5 linked regions of the Homo sapiens genome follow. The protein of the gene in region 4 interacts with the protein of the main gene of each other region in a biochemical or structural test. Each region holds a gene or a part of one and is shown on either strand. Other genes may lie near its edges. The genes, in order: NR4A2, SIN3B, CDX2, SMARCA2 and CBX5.

The links.
Region 1: the proteins of SMARCA2 (region 4) and NR4A2 form a complex in vitro, tested with the Homo sapiens proteins (one study listed by BioGRID).
Region 2: the proteins of SMARCA2 (region 4) and SIN3B form a complex in vitro, tested with the Homo sapiens proteins (one study listed by BioGRID).
Region 3: the proteins of SMARCA2 (region 4) and CDX2 form a complex in vitro, tested with the Homo sapiens proteins (one study listed by BioGRID).
Region 5: the proteins of SMARCA2 (region 4) and CBX5 form a complex in vitro, tested with the Homo sapiens proteins (one study listed by BioGRID).

What each region holds. Positions count from the first base shown.
Region 1 is NC_000002.12:156,326,828-156,329,740, forward strand, and holds part of NR4A2 (nuclear receptor subfamily 4 group A member 2), read right to left. Parts: coding exon 2,496-2,913; intron 1,707-2,495; coding exon 1,577-1,706; intron 1,188-1,576; coding exon 1,024-1,187; intron 94-1,023; coding exon 1-93. UniProt on the Homo sapiens protein: Transcriptional regulator which is important for the differentiation and maintenance of meso-diencephalic dopaminergic (mdDA) neurons during development.
Region 2 is NC_000019.10:16,870,880-16,874,400, reverse strand, and holds part of SIN3B (paired amphipathic helix protein Sin3b), read right to left. Parts: intron 3,173-3,521; coding exon 3,003-3,172; intron 1-3,002.
Region 3 is NC_000013.11:27,966,504-27,970,540, reverse strand, and holds the start of CDX2 (homeobox protein CDX-2), read left to right. Parts: upstream 1-1,225; 5' UTR 1,226-1,534; coding exon 1,535-2,075; intron 2,076-2,247; exon of another isoform or gene 2,248-3,094; coding exon of another isoform or gene 3,095-3,284; intron 3,285-4,037.
Region 4 is NC_000009.12:2,186,336-2,189,856, reverse strand, and holds part of SMARCA2 (SWI/SNF-related matrix-associated actin-dependent regulator of chromatin subfamily A member 2), read right to left. Parts: intron 1-3,521. UniProt on the Homo sapiens protein: ATPase involved in transcriptional activation and repression of select genes by chromatin remodeling (alteration of DNA-nucleosome topology).
Region 5 is NC_000012.12:54,230,442-54,232,803, forward strand, and holds the end of CBX5 (chromobox protein homolog 5), read right to left. Parts: 3' UTR 501-2,362; downstream 1-500. UniProt on the Homo sapiens protein: Component of heterochromatin that recognizes and binds histone H3 tails methylated at 'Lys-9' (H3K9me), leading to epigenetic repression. In contrast, it is excluded from chromatin when 'Tyr-41' of histone H3 is phosphorylated (H3Y41ph).

The sequences.
Region 1 (2,913 bases), on a different chromosome or scaffold from region 4:
GATGATCTCCATGGAGCCAGTCAGGAGATCATAGAATTGCTGGATATGCTGGGTGTCATCTCCACTCATTTGATAGTCAGGGTTCGCCTGGAACTGGAATTTCATTTTAAAAAGCACTTAATGAGGTTCTCTAAAATATATAACCCGTGAAATTGCTAACCCCGTTTCTAATAGGGGAGCCAGGTTTTTATAACAATTAAACCTCTCTCTGACCAGTAAGGAAATTAGATGTTCCGGGGCAATTAATTCAATTAGGGATGGTGCTACGAGGTCGCTGCTTTAAATATGTAAATTGCCATTTCCATACAGACTAAATACAGTGCCATCCAGCCCTGGGAAACGTTCACTCTTATCTCCACAAAACAATTGACATGTTAGTATTCATGCTAGTCCCAGAGTGGGCCTCGAGCTGAGACGCCCTTTTGCAAATCTTAATAAAATTGCAGTCCCTACCAGGTTTGCTCAACATACTTCCTCCAATTAAAGCCCGCATATTTTTCACAGCTGGAGTAAAAAGGATCTGACCACTTGATCCCCCACCCCACTGGCATTCTTTACACCCTCTCCTTCCCTTCCCTGACCCCCAGACAGGCCCCCACATCCTTCCCCAGCACAGTGCCAGGAAGGATGAGGATTAAAGCATCTATCTCTATGGAGGACTGGGAATAAAGTAGATTGGGAAGGGGGAGAGTTTGCACAGCCCCTGGATTTCATGGTAGAGGCACTGGTGTATATGGAAGAGGAGGGGCGATGGGGTAGTGGGGTAGTGGGAATTCACACAGCTTCAAACCCTGTGGCGTGTCCCTCTCCTCCTTCCTCCATCCTGTCCTCATGTCTATGCCCCCAGCTACATGGATTGTCTGAAGATCTGAATCTTGAGGCCCTGGCCAGAGCTGCGAGGCATATACAGCCTTGCTTGCCTTCTTTACCCCCGTTGAATCTGAGAGTTAATGACGGATGTGGGGAGGGGTCCTGCCCATCTGTCGGTTTGTCCACATGATATCCCCCCCGCCAGCTTCTTACCCTGGAATAGTCCAGGCTGGTCATAGCCGGGTTGGAGTCGACATGGGCCCTGACGAGGGCACTGATCAGACTCACCGGGGGCGAAGGGGGAGAGGGCTCCTGTGGGCTCTTCGGTTTCGAGGGCAAACGACCTCTCCGGCCTTTTAAACTGTCTGTGCGAACCACTGCAAAGGAAGAGCCCTGTTAGCGCCGCTTTTCCGAGCCCAGGCCCAGCTGCTGCCTCGGTCCCTCCCCGGGGAAGGCCGCAGCCGCGGGGCACCAGGCTGAGCGGCTGAGGGCCCCAGTGCTTGTAAAGCCTTCACTGACTAGAAGCATTAAAAAATGCGGGGTTATTTTATGTCTTCCTCCAAATGGGTCGTATAGTTAAAGGAGAGAAGGGCCTGGCGGCTTTCTCTAGGGAAGGCCGGGCAAGCAGGCAGCTGCAGGGTCCTGGAGGCCATACTGAGGGGGAGTCGGAGATCCCCAGCACCGGGAAGTGGAACGTGATGCTGGAGTATGAGCAGTGGTTTCCTAAAGGCGCAAACTGGAGGGTCGGCAGCTCCCCTCAGCCTACCTTCTTTGACCATCCCAACAGCCAGGCACTTCTGAAATCGGCAGTACTGACAGCGATTCCGGCGACGCTTGTCCACTGGGCAGTTTTTATTTGCTAAACACACGTATTTTGCATTTTTTTGCACTGTGCGCTGCAAAAGGAGACAATATAGACCAACATTTTTTTTCTTCTTTTGAAAATCAGGCAACTCGGAGAAAATTTCTGTTATGTGACTGGGGTCTACGATTCCTCCCCACAAACAAACACATACACACAATTCCATTTTATTTTTTTCTCTTCCTTTTCTTTCTTTCTTTTCTTTTTTCCTCCCCCAGGGCATTTAACAGAAGAAAATTGATAGCGTTAACATTTGAGCTAACCTTGCCGCTCCTTGCTGTGTTTTATATGCCAAGAGAAGGAGAAGGAGACGCTCAGTAAATACAAATCCGTGGGCATTCATATTATTTACATTCCTTGGAGACCTTCTCTATTTAAAATGATAAGATTATTCAATCAGGATGGCGAAATAAAGAGATCACTTAATTTGACCATAGGGAATTCTGTTCCACTTGGTTAGCTCAGACACGGTTCTCTGTCCTAACCAATTTCATTCTGAACAGGGAAGACAGCTCCTAGCACATGCAAATGACCCTCTTCCAACTCCGGCTCCAGCAACTTCGGGCGGGGGCCAGCCGGGTCGGCTGAATGCGAGGGGGATGCGACCCTGGCCTCCCAGTCTTTCTGCTTCCCTTTCTCAGACACCCGGAAGTCCCCGCCGCAGCCCATGGTCTCCTGCAGGGCAGCTTCGGCGGACCCCGGAGAGCTGGGCAGTCCCGGGAGAGCTGGGGCTGGGCTACTGGCACCAAGGCAGAGGGCACACTCCGAGGTCCCGGGCACTAGGGGCTCCCTACCTGCCTACTCCGCTCCCGCCATTGCTCACCTTAAAGAAGCCTTTGCAGCCCTCACAGGTGCGCACGCCGTAGTGTTGGCAGGCCGCGTTGTCCCCACACACAGCGCACAGCCCCTCGTTGGAGGGGGAGCCCCGCGACGGCGGTGAGGGCACCTGCGTGTCGAGCAGCTGAGACGCGTGGCCGATCTGCAGGCCCGGGAAGCCCATGGACGCGGGCTTGCGAATGGGGTTGGGCACAGCGAAGGTCTGCCCGTCCACCACGTGGTGGCTGCCGGCGGGCTCCGGGTTCATGGGGACGTGCAGGGGCCCGTCGAAGCGCATCTGGCAACTAGACACCGGGGTGCCAGGGGGCGATTGCTTAAAGGAGAAGAGGGAGAGGCGGGAGACTGGCGTTTTCCTCTGCTCGATCATGTGCGTAGTGGCCACGTAGTTCTGGTGGAAGTTGTGG
Region 2 (3,521 bases), on a different chromosome or scaffold from region 4:
CAGACCAGACCAAACCAGACCAAACCAAAACCAAACCAGACCAGACCAGGCCAGACCAAAACTAGACCAGACCAGACCAGACCAAAACTAGACCAGACCAGACCTGAACAAAACAGACCAGGCCAGACCAGCAAACCCTGCCCGGGTGTGAGAAACACACAGAAAAGACACGGAAAAATATGTTCCAAAGCAAACCCAGGAATGAGCTGAAGGTGGCCTGAGTGCAGGCTGTTCCTTTCCCCTAAATGCTTGGCTGTAAATACACTGCTACTCCTTTTACCTTTGCACTGAAGAAGGAAGGAATGGAAACAGCAGGGATCGTGGGGCAGACAGGGCTGTGTGAATCACCCGCCTGCACAGCCCAGGCCCTGGTCAGGGGACCACACTCCTTGGGGGTTCCATGTGCAGCTTTGTTGAATGGATACAATAACACCTGGACACGCATAGGTTTCAGACAGTACCTGGCACACAGCAAGTGCCCACTGAATGCCAACTGCTACTGCTAAAAAACAGCAATGCTAATTTTTAAGAAAAAGGGAGGCAGAGTCCAGACATGGCCTCGAGGCAGGTTACAAACAGTGTGGAGGGGCCCGCAGTGAGCACCTGGCCCAGGGAGATGCAGCTGGGGTGTGGTGCAGCCACAGCTGGGACAGCAGGGCAGCATGTGGCTCTCACTACAGCTCCAGCCAGACAGCCCCATTTTCATTGCTTTGTTTTTAACAGGTTCTAGAGGAGTTGTTTATGGAAGGGGGGGATTTTTTTAAAGCATTAATCAATGCTTTCCATAAACCATCTGGTCCAATCTCCTGGTGTCACAAGCAAGGTTGCTGTCCCCGAAGCCATGGCCCATGAGGGGTGCCCAGCCTGGGGGGGGGGGGAGGGGACAGACTGCCAGCCCCCTGGCGTCCCCTGCGTCACTTCCCCAACACCATGTGCTGGGCCCTGGGTGTCCTCTCTCCAGGCTGCCCCGTGCGTGTTTCCCTCACCTGGGGAGTGGCCACTGCTGTGGATGGTGATGGGCAGGGACCCATTTCGGGCACACGGAGGGAAAGTGGAGGGGGCTGAAGCGAAGGTGTCAGAACGCAGCTATGGGTTTCACTAAGTCCTCATGGCCAGACACAGAAATCCTCCCAGTCACCAACAAGGCAGACGCAACGGAAACAGGCGCAAACACCGTGGATAGCTTTCCATGAGAAAAGATGTCCCAACGGCCATGAAAGGACAGGGCCCCAGCCACATTTGCCATCAGGGAAATGCAACGTGAGCCCACCGAGATTTGAACTCCCAGCTGATGGAGAGACGCCCCTGAGCCCCAGGGAGGACACAGAGTGCGGCCTCGCACAGCACTGGTACGAGTGACCCAGGAAACGGAAAGTTGCCATCAGCGGGACACACCTCTCTGTGCCTTACCCCAAGGGCAGCAGCAGAAATGTACATAGACGGCCACCGCAGACACACCCACGGGGCACCGCCCATGCCTGTCCTCAGGAGACAGGTGGACGGAATCGGGGGTCGTTCCTCGGAATCCTTGGCCGGTTCATCTCAACACAGGAATCTCACAGAATGACGCTCCCAGGATGCGGCTGGGCGCTGTGTGCTGCTGTTAACACACAGCTCGAGGCCAGGGATCTACCTCTCTGTAGAAATCAGGGTTGTGATGCCGGTGCGGTGGCTCACGCCTGTAATCCCAGCACTTTAGGAGGCCAAGGGAGGCGGATCACCTGAGGTCAGGAGTTCGAGACCAGCCTGCCCAACATGGTGAAACCCCCTCTCTACTAAAAATACAAAAATTAGCCAGGCGTGGTGGTGCGCACCTGTAATCTCAGCTACTCAGGAGGCTGAGGCAGGAGAATTGCTTGAAACCAGGAGGCAGAGGTTGCTGTGAGCAGAGATTGTGCCATTGTACTCCAGCCTGGGAGACAAGAGCAAAACTCTGTCTCAAAAAAAAAAAAAGAAGAAGAAGAAAAAGAAATCAGGGTTGTGGGTGTCCATGGGTGGCAGGTGGCTGGGTGGGGACACAGGGGCAGGGGTTCTGTTGATGAAAAGCCCATCCATCTGCCCCCTTCAAATTTGGGGACTTTTCTGCTTGGGTATTTTAGCTCCATTAAGCAGTCTTTAAAACCTGGAAGGAAACGTCCTGTCTGAAATGCTTCTCGTGGCTGTGTCTGGGTGGGAGAGTAATGGCATTATTTTTTTTCCAGCTTTTTTTCCACTTTATGATGAACAGCCTTACTTGGTGACCAGGAAATGGAGGTCACCATGAACAATGATTCTGGCAGAAACCAGGCAGGACCCATGTCCTGGAACCACACCCAGCTCGTCTGGGACGTCTGCTGTTTATATTTACGTGACCAGTTTCCTTGTGTTGACATTCAGTGGGGCCTGGGTTTTTGCTACTACTAAAACCAACGCAGATGAAATCACTATTCCCACCCTCCCTCAGGATAAGTGGGTTAAGGTTTTTTCCATGTTGTCAATTTAACCTCAAGAAAGGTTTGTCAACAGGGACACGGAACAAAAACTTGTACACAAATGTTCAGAGCAGCATTGCTCACAATCTCTATAAGGCAGCCACAGCCCAGATGTCCACCAAGAGATAGAAACAAAACGTAGCTACCCACGCAATGGAGTATTACAGAGCCATAAAAAGGAATGAAGCACGAGGGAAATACAGAGGCAGAAAGCAGTTGACTGGATGTCAGGGGCTCGGGGCAGGGGAATGGGCAGTGGCTGCTGATGGGGATGGGGTCTCCTTTTGGAAAGATGAAATGTTCTGGAACTAGACAGAGGTGGTGGTTGCACAATATTGTGAATGTACCAAATGTTACCAAACTGTACACTTCAAAATGGTTAATTTTACGTTATGCGAATTTTGTCTCAATTAAGAAAAAACAGGATAGGTTTGCTGTGCTGACCACGGGCCCCCTCCCGAGCGGGGAGTGAAATGATGGTAGAGCCATTTCCGCCGTCCTCAGGGCCGGCCCCACCCCGGCCCGGCTCACCTGCCGCGCAATGTTCTGCACCAGCTTGTCCATGGTGAAGCCCACGTAGGCATGGATGGTGAACATCTCGCGTAGGGTGTCCTCGTACTGCGTGGGGTCGATGCTGCCCTCCAGCAGGCTCCGCACCATGTCCAGGAAGGCCGGGTAGTACTCCTCCAGCTCCACTTCACCTGCGGAGACACACCGCCTCATCCATATGCCTCCTGGAGAGCGCAAAGTCACGCAGGCCAAACTCTGGCATGACAGAGCCCCAACAAATGCCCCCATGGGGCCCAACAGCCCTCACCTGCCACCCCTGGGGCAAATGTGGGAATCACCAGGAAACCCGAGTAGCTGGTGTTCACTGCCACCCTCCGAGGCTGCCTAATCTGGCCGGCAACCCAGGGATGGCAGCGAGAATGCTGTGGAGGCCAGGCATGGTGGCCCATGCCTGTAATCCCAGCACTTGGGGAGGCTGAGGCAGGCGGATCACCTGAGTTCAGGAGTTTGAGACCAGGTTGGCCAACATGGTGAAATCCT
Region 3 (4,037 bases), on a different chromosome or scaffold from region 4:
CCACTCCACGCGGTTGCTGAAACCGAGCTGGGCGCGCGCGGGGGCCGAATCTCGCCGCCTCCGCGCTCCTGTCGGGGCAGCTCCCGATCCCGGGCTGCGCGGCTTCGGTCCCCAAGACGGCCACTTCCAGCCCTAGGCCCCTTGGCCGCAGCGCTTCCCAAACCAAGAGAGATCCTTTCTCAACTCAGAGCTTTTCATTAGCAGTCGTTAATAATGGCCCTGAGTTGCCTTATCATCTCCTGGAAATGAGAAATAAATTTCTTCGGAGAACGTTTCCCTTTGTAAAGGACAGAGAGTTTTAAAGATACAGGTATGATGTAAGACACATAAATACCTAGGTAAGCATTAGCAGAAATTCTCTTTTCCTTATATTTAAGTATAATAAACATACAAGTGTAGCTCAATGAATTTTCACAAACTGACATTCTGTGTAACCAGCAGCCTAAGAAACTGCTTTACCAACGATCCCCTAGCTCGCCTCCAGTTATGCACGCCAATAACCACTAGCCTAACTTCTACCACATGCCCATTACTTCTGTAGTTTAAAACTTCTGATTCTTGAATGTAAACGTTTAACAATAAATCGCTTGAATTTAACTCAAATTTCAAATGTAAGATGAAGTCAGAGATGCAGCCTGAATCTAGGATCATAATTTGTCTTGTGCGGAGGGCGAGTAATTTCCTTGGGCAAGAAAATAACTGGAGGTGACAGTTGTTTGGGGCTGCAGTCGTCCGGGCCAGGAGCACAGGGCGGGAAGGAATGGCCCATCTCTTAGGGCTCTCTGCTTGTCACCTACCAGGTTGGTCAGAAACGTTCTCATCAAAGCAATGGTTCTCTTTTCTTTTCTCTTTGGGACAGAAGGAGTTTCTTGACCGCCCTCTTCCCTGCAAATGCATAAACAACCACTGCTCCTGTCTCCAAGCTCAGATTCCTACCAAGATAGCCTTTTCTCTTCCCCTCTCTTTTGTAAGTCTCTTGATTTCATTCTTTGAACCTGTGATTGGAGGTTAAAGTGCACCAGGTTGGAAGGAGGAAGCTCTTAACAATAAAGGTTTGAATATTTAGCTGTGTCAGGTCGCTGCCCTCTCACGAGCCTCCCTCCCCTTTATCTTTTAAAATGCAAATTATGTTTCGAGGGGTTGTGCGTAGAGTGCGCGCTGCGCCTCGACGTCTCCAACCATTGGTGTCTGTGTCATTACTAATAGAGTCTTGTAAACACTCGTTAATCACGGAAGGCCGCCGGCCTGGGGCTCCGCACGCCAGCCTGTGGCGGGTCTTCCCCGCCTCTGCAGCCTAGTGGGAAGGAGGTGGGAGGAAAGAAGGAAGAAAGGGAGGGAGGGAGGAGGCAGGCCAGAGGGAGGGACCGCCTCGGAGGCAGAAGAGCCGCGAGGAGCCAGCGGAGCACCGCGGGCTGGGGCGCAGCCACCCGCCGCTCCTCGAGTCCCCTCGCCCCTTTCCCTTCGTGCCCCCCGGCAGCCTCCAGCGTCGGTCCCCAGGCAGCATGGTGAGGTCTGCTCCCGGACCCTCGCCACCATGTACGTGAGCTACCTCCTGGACAAGGACGTGAGCATGTACCCTAGCTCCGTGCGCCACTCTGGCGGCCTCAACCTGGCGCCGCAGAACTTCGTCAGCCCCCCGCAGTACCCGGACTACGGCGGTTACCACGTGGCGGCCGCAGCTGCAGCGGCAGCGAACTTGGACAGCGCGCAGTCCCCGGGGCCATCCTGGCCGGCAGCGTATGGCGCCCCACTCCGGGAGGACTGGAATGGCTACGCGCCCGGAGGCGCCGCGGCCGCCGCCAACGCCGTGGCTCACGGCCTCAACGGTGGCTCCCCGGCCGCAGCCATGGGCTACAGCAGCCCCGCAGACTACCATCCGCACCACCACCCGCATCACCACCCGCACCACCCGGCCGCCGCGCCTTCCTGCGCTTCTGGGCTGCTGCAAACGCTCAACCCCGGCCCTCCTGGGCCCGCCGCCACCGCTGCCGCCGAGCAGCTGTCTCCCGGCGGCCAGCGGCGGAACCTGTGCGAGTGGATGCGGAAGCCGGCGCAGCAGTCCCTCGGCAGCCAAGGTAAGCAGAGGCTGCGCCCCTTCGGAGGGTGCTTGGGAAGGCGCGGGTCGAGCCAGTGGCTGCTGCGCGTCGCGCGTCCAGTGCGCACAGGGGCGTCCCGGGCTGTCTGGGAGCTCGGCGCCAGGAGGGGCACGGCCCGGAGACAAATTCGGGGGCCTCTGGCCCGTCGGGGCTTCTCTGACCTACTGAGCCTGGGAGTGAATATTCTGAGTCTCAACACCGTGTTCAGGCGTCCTCTTTCCAAGAGCTCCTCATTCGCAACCCCGGGACACCTTCGGGAAGCTCCGGGGAATGTCGGCGTGAGCACTGCTGGACGCCGGCAGAATCGCGTCCTCCGGCACTTGCTGCGGCATGCATTCCTTGCGTGGCTCCTGGCCGCCGAGGAGAGAGGGAGGCTCGAACCTTCTTGGGCTAGGTCTAGGCCATTTATCTCCGCTCTCTCTTTCCCCATCTGAGCCATCTAAGAAGAGAAGTGACCTGGGGGGGTCGGAGGATGGCTAGGCTGTGTGTGGGACCGGGTTTGGCCACTCGGGCCAATTCAAGGTACAGCGAGCAGGCAGACCAGGGAGAGCTGCTGTCGCTGGGAAGAAGGTGCTAGCCCCAGCTGCTAAGGCGACGGGGGCGCGCCCCGTCTCTGAACCTCTGACCTGTGAAGGGGTCATTTCAAGCAAAAGCTGGAAGGCTAGGGGCAAGAAGCCTAGGGGCAGGCGTCTGCGGAGAGAGCAGGGAGACGGGGAGGAAACCCTGGTGGGAATTAAGCCGCCGCTCCAGGTAGGGGTCATTTCTCCCAAAGCTTCCTTTCAAGGGTGTCAGGGATGTCTGTGAGTGTGTGTGTGCAACTGAAAAAGATCCTAGGTTTGCCGGACTGTGGGGCTCATTGACTCTGGGTCTGCCCCTTCTGGTGTTCGAGTGTGCCTAGAGGTGGCAAGGAAGTGCGGTGGGGAGAGTCCTAGTTGAGTGCCCCTTTTAAAGTCTTTCCCCAGCCCTCAGCGCTTCCGCTTTTCTTGCTTCGCTCCTTGATGCCCCAATTGGGCAGGCACGCTGGTTATGGGCACTTTGCAGAAGTTTATAGCCAATTACAACTGTATAAATCAAAGCGCCCTTTGGGGGCTGTCTCTGGGCATCGGTTTCTGCGTCACTGTGCACATGCTAGGGAGAGTCCTGGTGGGAATGCCGCCGACCGGGGAGAAGGCCACAGATCAGCCTCGGGTGAGCCTCAGAGCTTTGGCTTGGTCCCTTCTCCTAGAGGAGGCGCCTTTCTCCTAGCAGGGGCTCCCAGATCCTGGCTCCCAAAGACCCACTTTCTACAGCCCCTGTCTGGGGCGCGGTTGGCGGGGGTGGCGCACGCCCTAAGGAAGACCTTTGCGTGTCCCGGGAGAGCGGCCGCGGGGTGAGGGCCGGGAAGGGGGCGGGAGGGAAGCCGCCAGAGCCCAGGCCGCGGGGTCAGCAGATGAGAGGCCGCTGTGAAGTCCTGCGCCGAGGTGGCAAGGCCGCAGTCGGCGCCGGGTGCCCTTGTGATGTTAATGTGGGGTGGCCGCAGCCCGCGGGCCGGAGCCGGGCTCCTCTGCGGAGCGTCATCTGTCAAGGTGTGGGGGTGGAGGGGGGGACGCGGCCTGGCTTGCTTTGATATACACCTTCCCAGCCCTGCCATTGTCTCTTTTAGGGCCCGGAAAGAGGGTGGTGACTTTCGCAGTCAATAATGAATTCTGACAAGTCCCTCTCATCCCTCCCCTCCATAGCCCCGCTCCTAGGTTCCCAGGGGGTGTGGGGCGCCTCCAAGGCCCTTGGGGCATGGGTCGAAGAGCGCTCAGGGTCTGGTCATCGCGTTGCCCGGCACGTCCGGGACACTGAAGGGGCAGCACCCGAGCAAGGGTCGCTCCGAGACACTTCCAGGCGAGTCTCCCTCCCGGGGTGTTCGGCTGAGGGAACTGCCCTGCGCCTCAGCTCCGGAGGTGTCCTCTG
Region 4 (3,521 bases):
CTAAAATCTCCCACAGAAACATAAGCTAACAGAAGAGATGAGAGCTGTGCTGTTATGAACTCAAGTGTGGTGGTAGCATTTGCCTTTCCTCCATTCCAAATCCTAATACACAAAATAGTACTCCTAGCCAAGGCTTCTATCTATTATACCCACTGTCTGCTGCTTGACAAGCTATAAGGTGGGGCCCTTTGCTTTGGGTGGAGTAACTTAGGAGAAGAAGAAGAGACTGGAGATGAAAAGGCCTACCTACTAATGAAAACGGAAAGATGTAGGACGTCGAAAGAAATAGATGAAAGAAGCCAGTCATAATGGGCATTTCTAAACAGTGTGGAAAGACAAAGTGAAATATGTCCATTTATACAGGTGTGGGCTCTCCCTGACACAGGAGTATAGGAAATGAATGGGCAGAAGACAGGCAATAGGGGTAAGAAAATGTATCCTTGAGAGCGTAATCTAAATGTGCCTTGGAGTGTGGCGCACTCTAATGCTGTCAGGCACGCGTCAGTGGATATGTCTCTCCAAAAAACCCACCTGACAGACTATGGACAAGCAGGCTAATAAACTGGACCATTAGGTGAGCCCTATAAACAGCTTCCTAAGGTTTTATGATACAACCATATGCACCTATGAAAAGTTCTAGCTACCAAGTGTGGTGGACAGAATATCATCTCCTCACAAGATGTCCATATCCTAATCCAAGAACCTCTGAATATGTTATATTACATGGCAAAAGGAATTTTAGACTGTTAATTGTCTGACCCTGAGATGGGGAAATTATAGTGGATTATCCAGGTGGGCCCAGTCTAATCATCTGCATCCTTAAACGTGGAAGAGGAAGACGCAAAAGAGAGATTCATGGAGACACAACATGAGAAGGACTGTACCTGTCATTGCTGGCTTTAAAGTTGGAACAAGGGGTAGGGGTGGGGAGGCAATGAGCCAAAGAACACTGTTGGGAACAGCCTTCCACTGGCAGCCAGCAAGAAAGTGGGAACTTTGTTTCTACGAACACAAGAAATTGAACTCTGCTGAGAACCAGGATGAACAAGGAAATGGGATTCCTATCTAGAGCATCCAGAAAGGAATGCAGGCTGCTGACACATTGATCTTAGTCCAGGGAGACTCATGCTGAACCTGTGACCCACAAGAGGTAATAAGTTTGTGTTGTATTAAAGTCACTAAGTTTGTGGTAATTTGTTATAGCAGCAATAGAAAATTAATATACCAAGGCTTGAGAAATTAAACTAAATTGATGGATGGGGGAAGAGAGCAGCTCTTTGAAAACAGATTAGAAATCTGGCTCTAAAATAATGAAATATATAGCTAAAATAGATGATGCAGATGTATTCAAATGCTAGAACAAAGGAATAACTACATGAATTTGGGACAGTTTAAATTCATAACAAATAAAAGGCAGAATCACTAACTAGAATATAGATAATAGAAAATGACGTTGGGAAAGAGTCGCTTATGTATGTTGAGGGCAAGAATGGAAACTCCATTCTCTGTGGCAATGTGTATACATCACATACATTTTACATCTTTTCAATAATCTATGGGTAAAATGCTCAGGACAGCATTATTGGGAAACAGCCTGATTAACAGAGTATAATTAACACGTTACAGTACATTCACATTCATTAATGAATGTTAATATGTATTATACATATTAATATATGTTGCTGTAGAAAAACCCTCATTGCCATGGAAAGTGTTCATAATAAGTACAAAAATCATTACATTTTCCAAATCATCTGTATTAACATGTAATTAGAAACCTAATAATTTTTTAAAAGCATGTCTATACTTTTAATATATTTGAAAAGGTAAAAAAACGTGTAATTCTATATCTCTACATACATGTAATATTTTGAGACGTTACCTTTTTTTCCACACATAAATTTGTTTATAAAAACATAGCACACAGTTTTGTGGCATGATTTTTGTACTTATTATGAATATATTGATCAGGCTTGTCTCAAACTGGTGACTTCAAGTGATCCAGCCACCTCAGCTTCCCAAAGTGCTAGGATTACAGGCATGAGCCACTGGGCTCGGCTTATACTGTAAAACATAGGTTTTAGTACTTTACTTTGAGAGGTATACAGTGAAGACACACATAGGAAAGAAGAAATTTTATGTTTTAAAATATTTATTAATTATATTTAAAATTTTTTTTTTAGATAGAGTTTTGTTCTGTTGCCCAGGCTGGAGGGCAGCGGTATGATCATAGCTCACTGCAGCCTTGAACACCTAGACTAAGCAATCCTCCTGCCTCAGCTTCCTGAGTAGCTGGGACTATAGACACGTGCCACCACACTTGGCTATTTCTTTTTACAAACATTTTTGTAGAGATAGGGTCTTGCTATGTTATCCAGGCTGGTCTTGAACTCCTAGCCTCAAGCTATCCTTCTGCCTCAGCCTCCCAGAGTGCTCGGATTATATTTGTGAGCCAACATGCCTCACTAAGAAGAAATTTTCAACTTCTGACAGCACCCTTAACCTTTGGAATATTTGGGTTATCAGTCACGGCTGGAACTAGGGTCAAACAATGGAGGCACGCACCTTGGGTGTAAAATTTAAGGGGGCACCAAAACCCAGTCATCAACTAATATCCTAAAAGGTAAATATTTTAAAAACCCAAATTAATGCCCCCCAAATCCATGATAAACAAACTATCAACATTTTAAATAAAGACAGTACCCTGTCATCACCCCTCTTCCCCTGGCAAAAAAAAAATTCTATGCAAAATTCACAGTTCCAACTCAGTTTGACAATTATTTTCTAAAGCTGTGATTCTCAAGGTGTGGTCCTTGGCCCAACATCATCAGTTCCCCCTGGGAATTTGCCAGAAATACGGATTCTCAGGCCCCACAACAGGCTACTGGATCAAACACTGGCATATTCTTCAAGCCCTCCAGGTTTGAGAACCACCGTGGTAAAGAAGAGAAGATAGGTGGCATTAGCAGCAGTGTTGTAGAAAATGTGTAGTAGGCTAATATTCAAAGGCAACATTCAGAAAGTGTTTGCAGGTCAGGTGTGGCGGCTTGTGCCTATAATCCCAGCACTTTGGGAGGCCGAGGCGGGTGGATCACGTGAGGCCAGGAGTTTGAGACCAGCCTTGCCAACATGGTGACACTCCATCTCTACTAAAAATATAAAAATTAGCCGGGCGTGGTGGCACACGCCTGTAATTCCAGCTACTCGGGAGGCTGAGGCAGGTGAATCACTTGAACCTGGGAGGTGGAGGTTGCAGTGAGCTACTGGGAGGTGGAGGTTGCAGTGAGCTAAGATCATGCCACTGCACTCCGGCCTGGGTGACAGAGTGAGACCCTGTCTCAAAAATAAATAAATAAAAGAAATAAAACAGTGTTTGCTAGGAGCCCAGCCTATGCTAAACATTTTACATGCTTGGAGGTCATTTTTATGACCTCAGTTTTATAGATGAGAAAACTGAGCATGAGCAGGGATAAGGACATGGCCACCGGTTGCCCAGCAAGGACAAAGTGGAATAAGGGCTC
Region 5 (2,362 bases), on a different chromosome or scaffold from region 4:
TGACCTCACACCATGTTCCTGACCTGCAAGCCTTCCATCCTCAGAGAAGTTTCTTTGGTATTTGTGAAGCAAATCAGAAAGATAAAATACAAAGTTTACAAATTCACATATTTTCAAACCTGATTTAGACTGCATTTGCTTGATGTGGTATTCCATAAGTTCTAATAGCCATGAGATGACTCTTCCAGGGATCCCTAGGTTGCTGAAGCCTAATATTTATTCTCTGAACCATTAGGAGCAGAGAAGAGCATGGAAACCAGGAAAGGTACACACTGAACCAGTTAAGGAAATAAGAGTAGGAAACAGGATACGCATTATCTTATTTCCTCAGGCTTGCGCCAACCTGTGGTTATTTGCAGAAAGTCAGAGACCAATAATCCTTAGAAAAGAAGCCCATGTTCTCCAAGTCTTGTTGCTCTTTCAGAAATTGAGCTGACACTCCAGGGCCCAAATTAAAGAAGGGGCATAAGACCCAGATCTTTAAACCACCACTCAGAATCCATATTTGAAAAGCAACCATTTATTAGAACCAATACAAGAGTATGAAAAGGGGGAAAAGAGGAGGGTAGAAGAGGGGGAGAGAATGAGGTCTGCATCAGATGTCAGTTATGGAAACACATAAATGCTTACTTTTTAAACATTTACATTTAAAAGGTGAACATATATATAGACCACTTATACTTTAAAAAAAAAATCAAAAGCAGACATGTTTGGCTGAAATAAAACCAAGAAACACAGCTAAAACTCCCCCATAAACCTAAAAGTCCATGGAGAATTCAATTTCTCATTTCCATTCAGAAATCTGGCTACAAAGTGATTTGTTTGCTATTTGGGACAGTACAGAGTGCTGAAAGAAACCCAGCTCTTGAGTCTCTTAGATCCCATCCTGTAGGAAGTGGTGGGAAAGCCAGCGGACCATGGGCAAGTCAACTCCTGGCTACTTGGCAGGGAGTCAGACTGTGCTCTCTCCATTCCCCAGGACTCCACAGAACCATCTGGTACTGCTAGTGCTGGGTGAACAGTGAGAGCAGAGTCCACAAAACACAGAGAACCAGAATGTGACCGCAAGGAGCCAGGACCTTGTGCTTTTTCATGGATTACAAATCTAGGGCCAAGGAGAGGGAAAGCAGAAAGAGCCCTATTGGGAAGAGGAGCTGGCTGCGCCCCTAAACTGAGATGGAAAGAGTAAGGCTCTTGAGCCCACACCTGGCCAAGTAGAAATAGTGTCCAAAGTTTTCTCAAACCAGAGGGAAAAAAGGTCAAGGTTAGGTTCAGACTGCAGACACTAAGAGATGACAGATGTTGAATACGGTGAATGGGATGAAGCTTTAAGGATCAATGCCCAATTCTGAGTGTTATACACATTTCTAGGAAAAATAATTCCAATGTAGCTTTTGGGGGTGGGGGGTGGAAATAAGGTGGTCACATTTATTCAATCAGCTGGTCCCTATGAGGAAGGAGAGGCCCAGGTACAGATACCACAAAGGGGTACAGTGACCCAGCTGTCCTGGGATTGGTTGGGGAGTGGTAAGCAATGACATAAATCAAAACCATTGAGGGTTGCTTTGATCCTGAGACAGTCTGAGTCTGCTTCAAACCCATGGGGAAAGGAACTTTAATCCCCAACCTGCAGAGAGAAATACGCAGTAGCATCCCTGCCTCACGATTCCCTAATCCAATGCTCTTGAATCTGAAATGGCCTCCCTCTGTGAATGCAAGACACAGAAAATCCCAAGTGCCTTCCCCAACAACATCCTAAGTAAGTCTGGACTAGTAAGATTCCAACATTCATGAAAACACTGTCAACATCTGAACTAGCAGCTTTGATGAGGGGTGGGGGGCAGAAAATTTGCCGAGTCACTAAGTAGTTCCAGTCTTGGAGACAGCTCAGTGAGGACCAAAGCCTGTGTGTCAGGCTTAAACTCTGGCTCAAGACATCCTCCACAGAGGACCCTGAAGTATTCTATTAACTTTGATTTACAATGCCTCACAACAACACCCCTGTGAGGTAGGTCAGTATTATTAACCCCATTTGACAGATGGGGAACTGAGGCATTGAAAGAAGTGACTTGCCCAAGGTCAACCATTATCAATCAGTTGAGGAGGTGGGCACACAGAGTCAGCATCCACTCGATTCTTGTTCCATTTCCCAGAGCATTTTACCTCTCAGAGTGTACTTGGGAGCAGAGGGAAGTTGGCAGGATACACCTCATTCCACAAACTAGATTAATTCAATAACTGAAGGGTATTAACTGAGGGCCTATTATTTATCTAGTATAATGTGAGGAATCTTGGAAAAATGAACTGCTTCTGAAAGTCATGTTATAGATGTTTTGAAAATAAAATTACATCTTTAACATTA